Regions from separate parts of the Homo sapiens genome. Here regions 2, 3 and 4 are each linked to region 1. Evidence: fine-mapped expression QTL. A gene starts in region 1. Each other region holds a variant in brackets. All regions are shown on one strand. Distances are from middle to middle. Region 1 holds the start of COL6A3 (collagen type VI alpha 3 chain). Region 2 has its middle 27 kb from the start of COL6A3. Region 3 has its middle 21 kb from the start of COL6A3. Region 4 holds the start of MLPH (melanophilin).

Region 1 (2,683 bases):
ACTGGACAATGACGATGTCACTTACTCTCTCGGAACTTCTTTTCTTTTCTTCTTTTCTTTTCTTTTTTTCTTTTTTCTCTTCTCTTCTCTTCTCTTCTCTTCTCTTCTCTTCTTTTCTTTTCATTTCTTTTCTTTCTTTCCTTTTTCTCTTTTTTGGAGTCTCACTCTGTTGCCCAGGCTAGAGTGCAGTGGCGCCATCTCGGCTCACTGCAACCTCTGCCTCCTGGGTTCAAGCAATTGTCCTGCCTCAGCCTCCCAAATAGCTGGGACTACAAGCGCCTGCCACCATGCCTGGCTAATTTTTATATTTTTAGTAGAGATTTAGTAGGGGTTTCACCATGTTGGCCAGGCTGGTCTCCAACTCCTGACCTTGTGATCTGCCTGCCTTAGCCTCCCGAAGTGCTGAGATTACAGGCATAAGCCACCGTGCCCAGCCTGTTTCTTTCATCTGTAAAATGGGACCACAATTTCACCTAATAAAAGAAGACATCTTTCTATTTAAAAGGGCTTAGGGTGTTGATGTTTGTGATAAAGGAGAGAATGTATATTGAAGTGTTTTGAAATGTGCAAAGCTTTCTAGAAACAGAAGTTCTTACTCAAGTATTTTCCCGAAGCTTTGGCAAGATAACCATTTTTATTACCCCGTCTGTGCCTAGAATGGGCCTATAAGCGCCACAATCAGAATCATTAGATATAGAAATTAAGAGAAATGTAGCCTCCTTTTTTTTGCCGGTGAACAGAGCTTTGGTTAACAGAAAACCAAGGCGATTTTAATTGCTGGTTTTTCTATTTGAAGGGGGAAGTTATTAGTAGAAGTCTCAATTCAGAAACTTCAAGAAGAAATGGGAGGGTGTGGTGAGGGTAAGCGGGGGACTGCATTTCCTGTTTTCCTTTCAGATGGTGTTGGAAAACATTGCAGGAAAACCATGGATACCCACGAAGAAATTCCAAAATTTATTCTTTTTGACGCCAAGGGCCCAGCCCAAAAGGTGACGAGTAGGAGTGGTCAATTTTTTTTTTTAAGAGTTGGGGCTTGCAGGAGTCCAGCTAAACGCTTGTAGGGTGAAGACAGAATTCAGAGGGTGACATCAGCCTGAGCGGGGGCCAGAAGAAACAGAGTGGAGGAGTCTGGTTTCATTTACAGTTTTGGGTCAGTTCTGCAGTGAGGAGGGGGAGAGGAGGGGTCCGGGAGGGAGGAGGAGGAGGAGGAGGAGCTGGAGGAAGCCCTGACTGGTATCCCTGGCCCCAGTCCAGTTTGGAGCTCAGTCTTCCACCAAAGGCCGTTCAGTTCTCCTGGGCTCCAGCCTCCTGCAAGGACTGCAAGAGTTTTCCTCCGCAGCTCTGAGTCTCCACTTTTTTGGTGGAGAAAGGCTGCAAAAAGAAAAAGAGACGCAGTGAGTGGGAAAAGTATGCATCCTATTCAAACCTAATTGAATCGAGGAGCCCAGGGACACACGCCTTCAGGTTTGCTCAGGGGTAAGTGTGATTTCTCTTCTGTTTTTCCAGGTTTGGGGCTAGAAGGAAATGCTCTTAACCTGAAGTGATCCTTTCTAGGTAGCGTTAGTGGCTCTTACGTTCATGCTGATCGCCAGTTTTCTGTACATGTTTTAGGTCTCTGGAAGATTCCGCTGATTTTTCTTTCTCACTTTATGGCAATGGGATTTCCTTAAATTGGTTAAGGTCATGATTGCCTAAGAGTGTGAGCACTTTTCCACCGCGTGTCTGTGGCTGCTACACGCGCCCTGTGCATTCCGGGCGGCAGTGTGTTTCGGCCCATGATTTATTTAAGTTACTGCCGCCTTCTAAAACCCATTCGGGATCCGCTTTGTTTGCAGAAGCGTCTTTGCTGAGGACTAGCATAGCTCCCTGCCGGGCGGCTCCGCTGGGAGATGTTCTCTGAGCTCTCTGGGTGGTGACACTAGGTCAGGGTGCAACAACCTGCATGGGTTTTCTGCCCAGGGCCGCCCATGGGAAGGTCCTGGTGGAGCACATTTGCTGCTTTCACAAGATTGGAGTAACTCTGGTGCTCAGGATCAGGGCCAAGTAAAGGGTCGCTCAGTCATTGCCGTCAAGCTTTCGTCTTTCCAGGAACCTGAAGTCTCTATTGGAGACTTTGTCCCTTGGGGTTGCTTAAAGGAGTTGCAGGGGTCAGAGGAGAAGAAGGAATTGGGCATTTGGGCAGCATGCTGAGTGTCTAAGGCAGGGCCCCTGGGGCTGCAGGGCCAGCCCATGCTGCACAGAGGTGAGGCCAGTGCCGAGCTGGGAGGCCCCGAGGGCTGTTCTCTGGCCCGGAGGATGCAGGGTGGGGCTCGGGCCCTCTCTTGCTGAGGATGGACACGTTCGCTGACAGTGGCCAGCCTGTTTGGGGAACCTGTTTCAAGGGGCCTACTATGTTGGATAATGAACGGGTATTGAAGTATGGGTGGGGTCACTGGGAGGGACTAGGGAGTGGTTAAAGAAAAATCTGCTTCCACAGGAAGCCCCAGGAGCCAGTTTCGAGGCCGGTGCAGACCCCAGGAGCAAACCCCTCTGAGCACAGGGGAGTCTGCTGTGCTGGATGGGGAGGCAGGGCTGTGGCCCCGGCTGACTGGCTTCTCTCCCCACATACAGCTCACCCCGGCGAGGACCACAGGGTGCTAGAGCTGCAGGGTGCTCAGAGCTCACGGGGATGGTGGATGCTCAA
Region 2 (2,683 bases), 27 kb before region 1:
CACTCAAGAGGGAAAGCCCTGACGAGTGTGATGATTCGATCTTTTGAAACATACAGAGGCAACAGTGCACATGAGGAGAGTGAAAATGGCTGGCTATTACTGCATTGCATTTAATTCTGCATTCACTTCCCAGATATGTAACTGGGGTCAATATATTTGGCAGTGGGTTCAGCACCCATGCTGAATCTTGGAGTATGGAGTAAGAACAATTGTGATGAGGAAGACCAAGTAGAGTGCTCTGAAGTTCTACTCCCCACCCACCATGACAGTGAATCACAAATCCATACTCTGGAAGGGAGGAGGATGGATCAGGCTCAGCCTTGGGGATTTTAAGAGTGTAGGATTGGTGGTCAGACCCACCACATCATATAGCTGGGTGTGCCTGGGGAAGTCCATTTTCACATGGAAATGGCACAGCTGGCATGGAGCCTGAACAGGACCAGAGGACATAAGTGAGCTATACAAGCAGTGGTCCCAGATGACCACGTCCTCTGCCACGATGGGCCAGTGCCCTCCCCCAGCTAGCATCAACAGCCCTGTGGGTGGGTCTGATAGGCTCTGCCAGAGGAGAAACAAAAAGCTGAAGCCTGGTTTACAGATGGTTCAGCTCAGAATCTGGAGGCAGGCTGGAAAGCCTCCTTCTCCCTTTGATCTTAATCATCACAGGCTTTTCTGCCAACACATCTCATTCTCTCTGACTCTGTCTTCTTGTCTGCCTTGCAGATGACCCAATTCCCCCTCCCTCCTCCCACACATACACACAACCAGCAAGAACAACAATAAAAAAGAAATCAAACAAACCCTTAAACCCCATCTAAATGAGCAACTTAGATGAATTTTGTAAAAAGATAATTTACGAAGCGTGAATAGAGGGCTGTGAGAATAGGTCACCATGAGAAGGTGCAGCAAAATTAAAGTGTGGGAAAAATATCAGTACAAGTGTTGGAAGAGAAGTAGGAGAAATCTCCCAGAAAATAGTACAAAAAGACCAAGAAATAAAGAATATGGGAGAAAAGCCACAAAGGCTCAAGTCAAAAGCTCTGATGTTTGACTATCCGCAGTTTCAGAGACTACAATGTGGGGACAG[C/A]CTTTCTCTCTCCCTGATGTGGCACTCACACTTCCCTGCTCCTCTCCCAGATCTCTCTCCAGGAAGGGCCCTGTGACCCTTCTGATGGGTAAACGTTGGAAGGTTACTGGGCAGGGGCAGCTCTGTCTTTCTTCCTCTTCAGAGGGAACTGCCTCCTGCTAGGAGCATTTTCTACTCTGTCCCCCTGTCAGGAGGTCTGCTGTGACCCCAGTGCCACTGAAACTGGGTGGATGAGTCAACCCAGTTCTGGAGCTGTGTGATTTCTGAATCTGTCTTATTTCTAGAACTATAACATTTCTGGAGCTGTGCAATTTCTGGAGCTGTCTTATTTCTGGAGTTGTGTCATTTCCGGAGCTGTCTCATTTCTGGAGTTGTGTCATTTCTGGAGCTGTCTTGTTTCTGGAGCTGTCCTGTTTCTGAAGCTGTCCTGTTTCTGAAGCTGTCTCATTTGGTTTTCACCATGAGGCACATCCTCCAACTTGGCCTCCCCCAGTAATATAGGTGATGTTTTCTATCTCCCATCTGGCACTTCCTTGTTTTTCAATTTGTTTTAAATTTGTCTTCCCATGCCTCAAAAAGACAACAAGCAAGACCAGGCAGCATGGAGGGGAAGACATTTTCAATGACAGAAAGAGAGTGTGACAAAGATCACTCATGAAGAATTAAATACTAGGCTTCTCAGAATCCTCACCAGCAGCACTGGATGCTAGAAGCCAACGGAGCGAGTTCTAAAGGAAAAGGACTTTAGTTTATGACACCTTAAACTCAGTATTCAACATCCTTAAACTATTGCTCAAGTGTGAGGGAATAACAAAGATTTTTTCACGCGTGGACTAACTAAGCAAGTTTACCTCTCATGCATCTTTCCATGGGAGGTGAATGGAGGACATTCTCCCAAAAGAGAAGAAATTAAATCAAGAAAGAGCCAGACCTGACTTCTAGCAGTTGGTGCATTTGATTGTAAGAGCACCATACTCTCTGCAAGGATGGTGGCAGTGGGGCACAGGCTGGAGGGAAAGGCTGAGAGGAAGTCTCTGGGAAAGGAGGAAAGAGTAAAAGAGATAAAGCAATTGAGATCCTGGAGGGTCTTGCAAAGATATAAGGCAATTAGCAGAGTGCAAAAAGGACTCATGTCCAGAGACAATTCCTTTTTAGTTGCATTGTTGGCCTTCCAGAGAAGGAAATGCAACACCAGCACCCTACTCAGCTGTGCAGTGACACACATTTACATTGTGTGTGTGTGATATCTGTGTGTAGCAGTGATAGGTTTTTAACTTTCAGATTCAATTTTTGGATAATTTACTCCATATGGAAACAGCATTGAATGTTAATATTCCCAAATTTTTAAAAATAATAAAATAAGAGCAATGATTCCACAGAGTGGGGTGGTGGAAGGTGCTGAGGAGGGGCAGAGGGAAGATGAGGGCATCATGTCCTATTATAACATGGGATTCAAGAGGCATAGCAAGAGTTAATGGTTGGTTGTTTTAGGCCCTTTCTTTTTCCTTATATTTTCTTTTCTTTTTCTTTCTTTTCTTTTTTCTTTTTTGTTTGAGACAGGCTTTTGCTCTATCATCCAAGCTGGAGTGCAGTGGT
Region 3 (2,683 bases), 21 kb before region 1:
CATTTAGCAGACATTTACCCTCCATGTGGCACAGAGCAGGTGCAGTGGTGGAGCAGCTTCTCTTCGAGGTGTATCTGTTTTTCCCTTAGGATGGCGCCGCTGCCTGAACCAATCTTCAGGCTCATAAACCCTTGGCTGGACCCTACACTGCACTTGCTCCCTCCTGGGGCTGGCCTTCCTCCGGGGTTGACCAGCTATCTGGCATGGCCACACGCCCCACCCCATGAACGACTCTTTGAACACCCAGTCCCTGGTGACAAAGCAGGAATTCGGTGCCCCCTCCTGGGTGAGCATTTCAACAGGGCAGAACTGTACTCCAAGGAAGGGGCCAGCATGATAATTTTCAGCAGTGTGTAAAGTGAGAAGGGAGCATTTTGGCGAGGGGATATGTACTACTGAAGTTTAGTAAAAATACACACGAACTCTTAAAAGGAGTAGTAAAAATAAAAGAGCAAAGAAAGAGCAGAAACTAGATAAAGGAAAGGGGTGGGGAGAGAGTGTACCAGAAACACTATTTGTCCTCAAAAGTGCTAACATTTTCTGTTTGGAGCCTGTTGCCTAGTGAAATTCCACAACCAGGGTGTCATTCCTGCTGCGTGCAGGCTTCTCCAGAAGCCTCATGAGACCAAGGCCTTCTACTATTTTAATATATGGGTCAATGGAAAACAGTTGGAAATCAGGTAGTTGGTTAAAATTTCACTGGCCAGGCCCTTGTTTGAATAGACACATTTATAATTCAGTTAATGCTCTAGTAAAATTACACCGAGGTGGTTAGAAAATTTAAGGATTTTTTTTTTTATTTTGGAGAGGAGAAGAGGAGAGGTCAGAAATGTCCAGCTGGGAAGGCACTGAAAGACCCTGTGGCCCACCCCTCCCTTGTTGGTGAGCCAGGGGACAGAATTGAGACCTGTCCTCAGGTCTTCTGGCTCCAGCTTCTGTCCCACTTCCCTGGCAGAGGTCACGACTCTGCAAATGTGTTTTGCTTCAGAGAAAAAATTTGCTCCAACATGTAAAAATTCAAATCTCACAAAAAAGGTGGAATTTCTAGCTCCTTTGAGAATGCTGGAAGTTCTGCTGCCTGTGATGCTGTCCCTGTAAGGGTGGGCTGGCACAGCCATGCAGAAGCCAGGGGACCACCGTCCACCTGCTCTGGGGCCCCATGGGATTTGAGTCCTGTGGTGGCAGAGGAAAGCAGCTCACCCTTAGTTCAGCTGCACCTCACCCAGCAAAGACGGCCCCTACAGGTCCTAAAGGGGCAAGGGACGCAGCCAGGGAAGCTTCTTGCAGACTCTCTGAGGTCTCCGAAGTCATTGTTGACTCCCAGGGGCCTGACCCCCATGTGCACGCCTT[CGTTTATTATCTCCTG/G]GGGTGATGTGGGAGCACGTGGGGCATAAGGAAGGAGGGCTCGGGAGCACCCCTGAATATGGTCATTACTGGCATCGTGAGCCCCTCCCACCACTTCCTGCCACCCCCACTCGCTTTCTAGCCGTACGGAAATGTTTGTGGTTCTCTGCATCTACCACAGGGTTCCAGGGCCCACGTCGTGGCTCTCACAGTCCCCTGTGCTGGGATGTCCTGCCCCCGCACGGCTGCTCCATTTGAACAACTCCCACACATCCTTCCAGACCCAGATTAGGTGTCTTCTTCTCCAGGAAGGCTTTTATGACTCCAGCTGACTAGACTGAATTAGACCTTCAGGGGCGGAGCTAGGGAAGGGGTGGGGGATGGTGGTGGAGGGGAGCTAGCAGTTTTAATAAGCCCCCCAGTGGCTCTGACAGGCAGCCAGGCTTGCCAGCACTGCTCTGCTGGAAGCATCCTGCAAAAGCCGTGCTTATTTATTTGCTTTTGTGAGCTTCATCAGTTCTTCCAATTTTCACCCTGAAAATGATCCTTCAAACTCAGCCGCTGGATAAGACACCCTGAAATGGACATGCCTAATGTGAAACGTAGGTGCTTGATTGGGTTGGGCTGTGATCGTCTGTAGAAGGTTGACTAAATGGGTGTCCAGTGTCTTATTTGTAGCTCAGAGAGACAACCTTCTGGCTACAGTGGTAAGAACTGATGTCTCCTCCAGGTGCTTTTGATGGGCCAGGTGTGTTCCAATTACTTTAAGTGTTATGCACGCATGCACTCTGCACTGCACCCTTATGTGCAAGTGTGACTATTATCCTTATTTTACAGAGAAAGACAGTGAGATCTGGTGAGGTTGAGTACTTGGCCCCCGGTGACTTATCACACCTGGGATTTGATCCAGACCCTCTGGCTTACACCTGTCTTAGGTCTGGCTCCGTGGAAACAGTGCCTGAGACAAATTCTCAGTGCAAGTGACTGATCAAGGGATATGGATGCTGTGGGAGAAGCTAGCACAGGAGGGAGGGGAGCGGGAGAGGTCGGGGAGGAAGTGGGGCAAGGGGTGTGCAGGGGAAGTGCAGCCGAGCCGGCTCTCATGTTGCTCAGGGGCATTCATTAGATTTGCCCTGTAGTGCTTGGCAGCCTTCCCTTTGCCAGTCTTTGGCTTTGGGCCTTCTCTGGAGGGAGACATAGTTCTTGGGACCTCTGGGGAGGGGCCGCTGTTGCTTAGGGATGATTCTCCAGGGAAGGCTACCTGTGCGAGCGCTTAGCAGCACCTGCAGCAGCTGGGAGATGGGCTCTCCCGTGGACAATGAATCCTAGGGGCTGGAGG
Region 4 (2,683 bases), 72 kb before region 1:
GCCTTGGCCCAGTCTGCATGGCAGACTCGCAATGGAGGCAATGGAGCTTCTGATTAAAACCAACCGTTTTGCCCAAAATGGGGATCCCCCGCCATCCCACTCCCACCCGTGCCTGCACCCAGAGCAGTCTGCTCAAAGAATCCAGGTGAAGCCTGGGGGACTAAGGCTGGGTGGCTGGGAACGCGCTGTCCTCACCAGCCTGGACCGAGGCCGGGAGGCTGGCGGCTGGGGGCGTTTTCACACCAGTGGGTCTGCACGCGACACCGCGCACCCCCCAAAGCCTAAGCCCCGAGTCCTGGGCGCCACCCTGGCCCCGCTGTTCCCTCTTCTCAGTGCACTCACCGGACCCTCTCCGGGGGACGCTCAGTCCCTGGTCCAGCACCTGGGAGAGAAAGGAGGCGACGAAGCAGGGCGTCAGGCCAGGGCGTCAGGTCAGGGCGCCGGGGCAAGGCTGGATAATGGGGGCAAGCAGGGCGCGGGGCGCAGAGCGGCTGGTTAGCGCCTGGCTCTCCGGGGCAGGCGGGCAACTGGCCACGTCCCGGCGCCTCCCGCCCGAACCACGTGGGCTGCGCCCCGCTCCGCCCAGCTCCGGGAGCGCGGACACCTCTGGATGCCCTGCCAGGCAGAGGGCGGAACGGAACGGACACCTGGGGCGCCCGCGCGGGAAGCGCCAGTGCGGGGGAGAGCCCCGGATACTCGACCCCCAAGCCAGTTTGGGGAGAAAGACGGCGGCGGGGAGGGGAAAGTTGAGCACACAGCTGCGATTCCCGTGAGTTGCGGCGACTTTGCATAGGTGACATCGCGCCGCGGTCCTGCCTTGGGCACGGTGGGACCCGCTTGCTGAGCGCGCTCTAGAGCGCGCGGCACATCGTCGAAATTTCTAACTCTGCAGGGAAAGCGCTATGTACTTCGGCTTTACAAATGGGGAAACTGAGGCTCAGAAACGCGCCCTACCAAAGCCACCGACCAGTAAGTGGCAACGCCAAATAATAAATAGGACTTTAAGCCCAGGGCTTTCTGCTGCAGAGAGCGTACCCTCACCCCTTCGATTCTGCCAGGCATCAGGACCAGGAGGGTCCCGCAGCCGCGGGCAGCCCTGCTGCGGGGAGGAGACCGAGGCCTTGCCCGCCAAGAAAAAGTCAAGATCCGCGGGCAAATGGGGCAGATGTGGAAGCCAGGACGCGCGGCGCGGTGGTTCCAGGACCGAGGACGCGCTGCGG[G/A]GAACGCCTGGGAGCTCCGCGCCGCTGCGCTCTTCTCCTGGACTCTAGGGCCGGCCTTTGGGTGCTCAGCGGGGCCCGCAAGCTCAGAGGGTCCCAAGGCGAGCCGCCGTCTCCAGTCCGCCCGGCCTGCCTGTCCTTCCGAATTCCAATGGACATTAGGGAATTGCCCTCCTCCCTCATCCTCCAAGACTGGGCGCTTCAGAATTTTCTCTCCCTCCCCCTCCCTCTCCCTTGTCACTTAAAAACTCACATTCTGTTCTCCAGGAACCGCTTTTGCAATTCAGTTTTCCTATCTGCAAAATGATAGGAATAAAGCCATTAGGTGAATGAATAGATACTAGTATCTCCATTTAACAGAAGAGGAATCAAAACCTTATAGGATTGTTGTGATATCACATTAGATTATTTGTAAACAGCTTTCAAAAGGCTGCAAAAGAACAAAAAAGAATGTTGTTGCCTGCTGAGCCCAGGGGAACACTGTAGGTGAATCAGGGTATTTCAGGCCCCTGGGCTGCTTTGAGACAGGTGCTCTTACCAAACACCATCAATTGTTGAGTGTGAACCCTGGAATAGAGTGAAGCTTACACTGAAGCCAGTATTTCCACATCCCATATGATCTGGTGCTTATGTTTTTCATTTCCTTACCTCCTTGCCATATACTTTACTGTTACTTGTTAAGATTAATAAATCCCTTAAGAGTTGATGTAGGGACTTAAGTTCCTTAAGGGCAGAAGTTTTTAAAAATGTTTTTAATACTTTAGTGCTTATTTATTTGAAGTAGTGGTTTTAAAAAATATACAACTGACACACGCTGATATATAAGGTATATAGTAAAGAATATAAGGAGTATAAAATGAAAAGCCAAATTCTCTCTTATTCCATTACTAACCTCCATGACCAGAAAGCAATCATTATTAATGGTGTCTTCTATATTCTTTCTGAATGGTGTGTGTGTGTGTGAGGTTAAGCATGTGGGCTCAAACCAACTGCAAGAGTCGGAATTCCAACTAGGAGTGTGGCCCACAAGCTGTGTCATCTTGGACCTGTTACTGAATCTTCTACTGACTTTTTTCTCTCTTCTCCATGATGAGAATAGTAATGGGAGTTACACATAAGGGTGTTGTGAATCAATATCCCTGCAGCTTGGGTGAGACACCATGTGGTGAGTGCTTGGTAAATATTAATTACTATTCCTGTTGATCTACTTCATCCTTTTTTGGTTGCAGAGTATCCAATGTGTGAGTTACCATAATTACTTACCAGTCTTCTATTGATGGACAGTTAATTTTTGATTTTTTGCTATTTAAATGATTCTGCCATAAATATCATCCTAGATAATTCTTATTGACACCTATCATACATAGGATGACACATGAATATCATTGTACATACATACTGATATATCTGTAGACTAAAAGCCTATAGATTTGGATTTTCTGAGTCAAAGGATGTATACAATTTTA

What was found. PIP is the estimated chance that this variant, and not a neighbour inherited with it, causes the effect.
Region 2: its variant is fine-mapped to the expression of COL6A3 in whole blood (TOPMed, PIP above 0.99).
Region 3: its variant is fine-mapped to the expression of COL6A3 in T cells (TOPMed, PIP 0.96).
Region 4: its variant is fine-mapped to the expression of COL6A3 in whole blood (TOPMed, PIP above 0.99).

Annotation. Positions count from the first base shown.
Region 1 is chr2:237,412,746-237,415,428 of GRCh38, reverse strand. COL6A3 (collagen type VI alpha 3 chain) reads left to right here and starts at 1,265. Exons shown (of 44, transcript NM_004369.4): 1 at 1,265-1,476.
Region 2 is chr2:237,439,702-237,442,384 of GRCh38, reverse strand. No RefSeq gene overlaps it. Among named protein-coding and RNA genes, the nearest start is that of COL6A3, 27 kb to the right of the region's middle. The variant C/A (reference allele first, on the strand shown) is at 1,088.
Region 3 is chr2:237,433,920-237,436,602 of GRCh38, reverse strand. No RefSeq gene overlaps it. Among named protein-coding and RNA genes, the nearest start is that of COL6A3, 21 kb to the right of the region's middle. The variant CGTTTATTATCTCCTG/G (reference allele first, on the strand shown) is at 1,351.
Region 4 is chr2:237,485,097-237,487,779 of GRCh38, reverse strand. It overlaps MLPH (melanophilin), which reads right to left and starts at 529. Exons shown (of 16, transcript NM_024101.7): 1 at 343-529. LOC105373957 (a long non-coding RNA gene) reads left to right here and starts at 632. Exons shown (of 2, transcript XR_001739962.2): 1 at 632-969; 2 at 1,059-2,080. RefSeq lists an enhancer at 694-1,662. The variant G/A (reference allele first, on the strand shown) is at 1,221.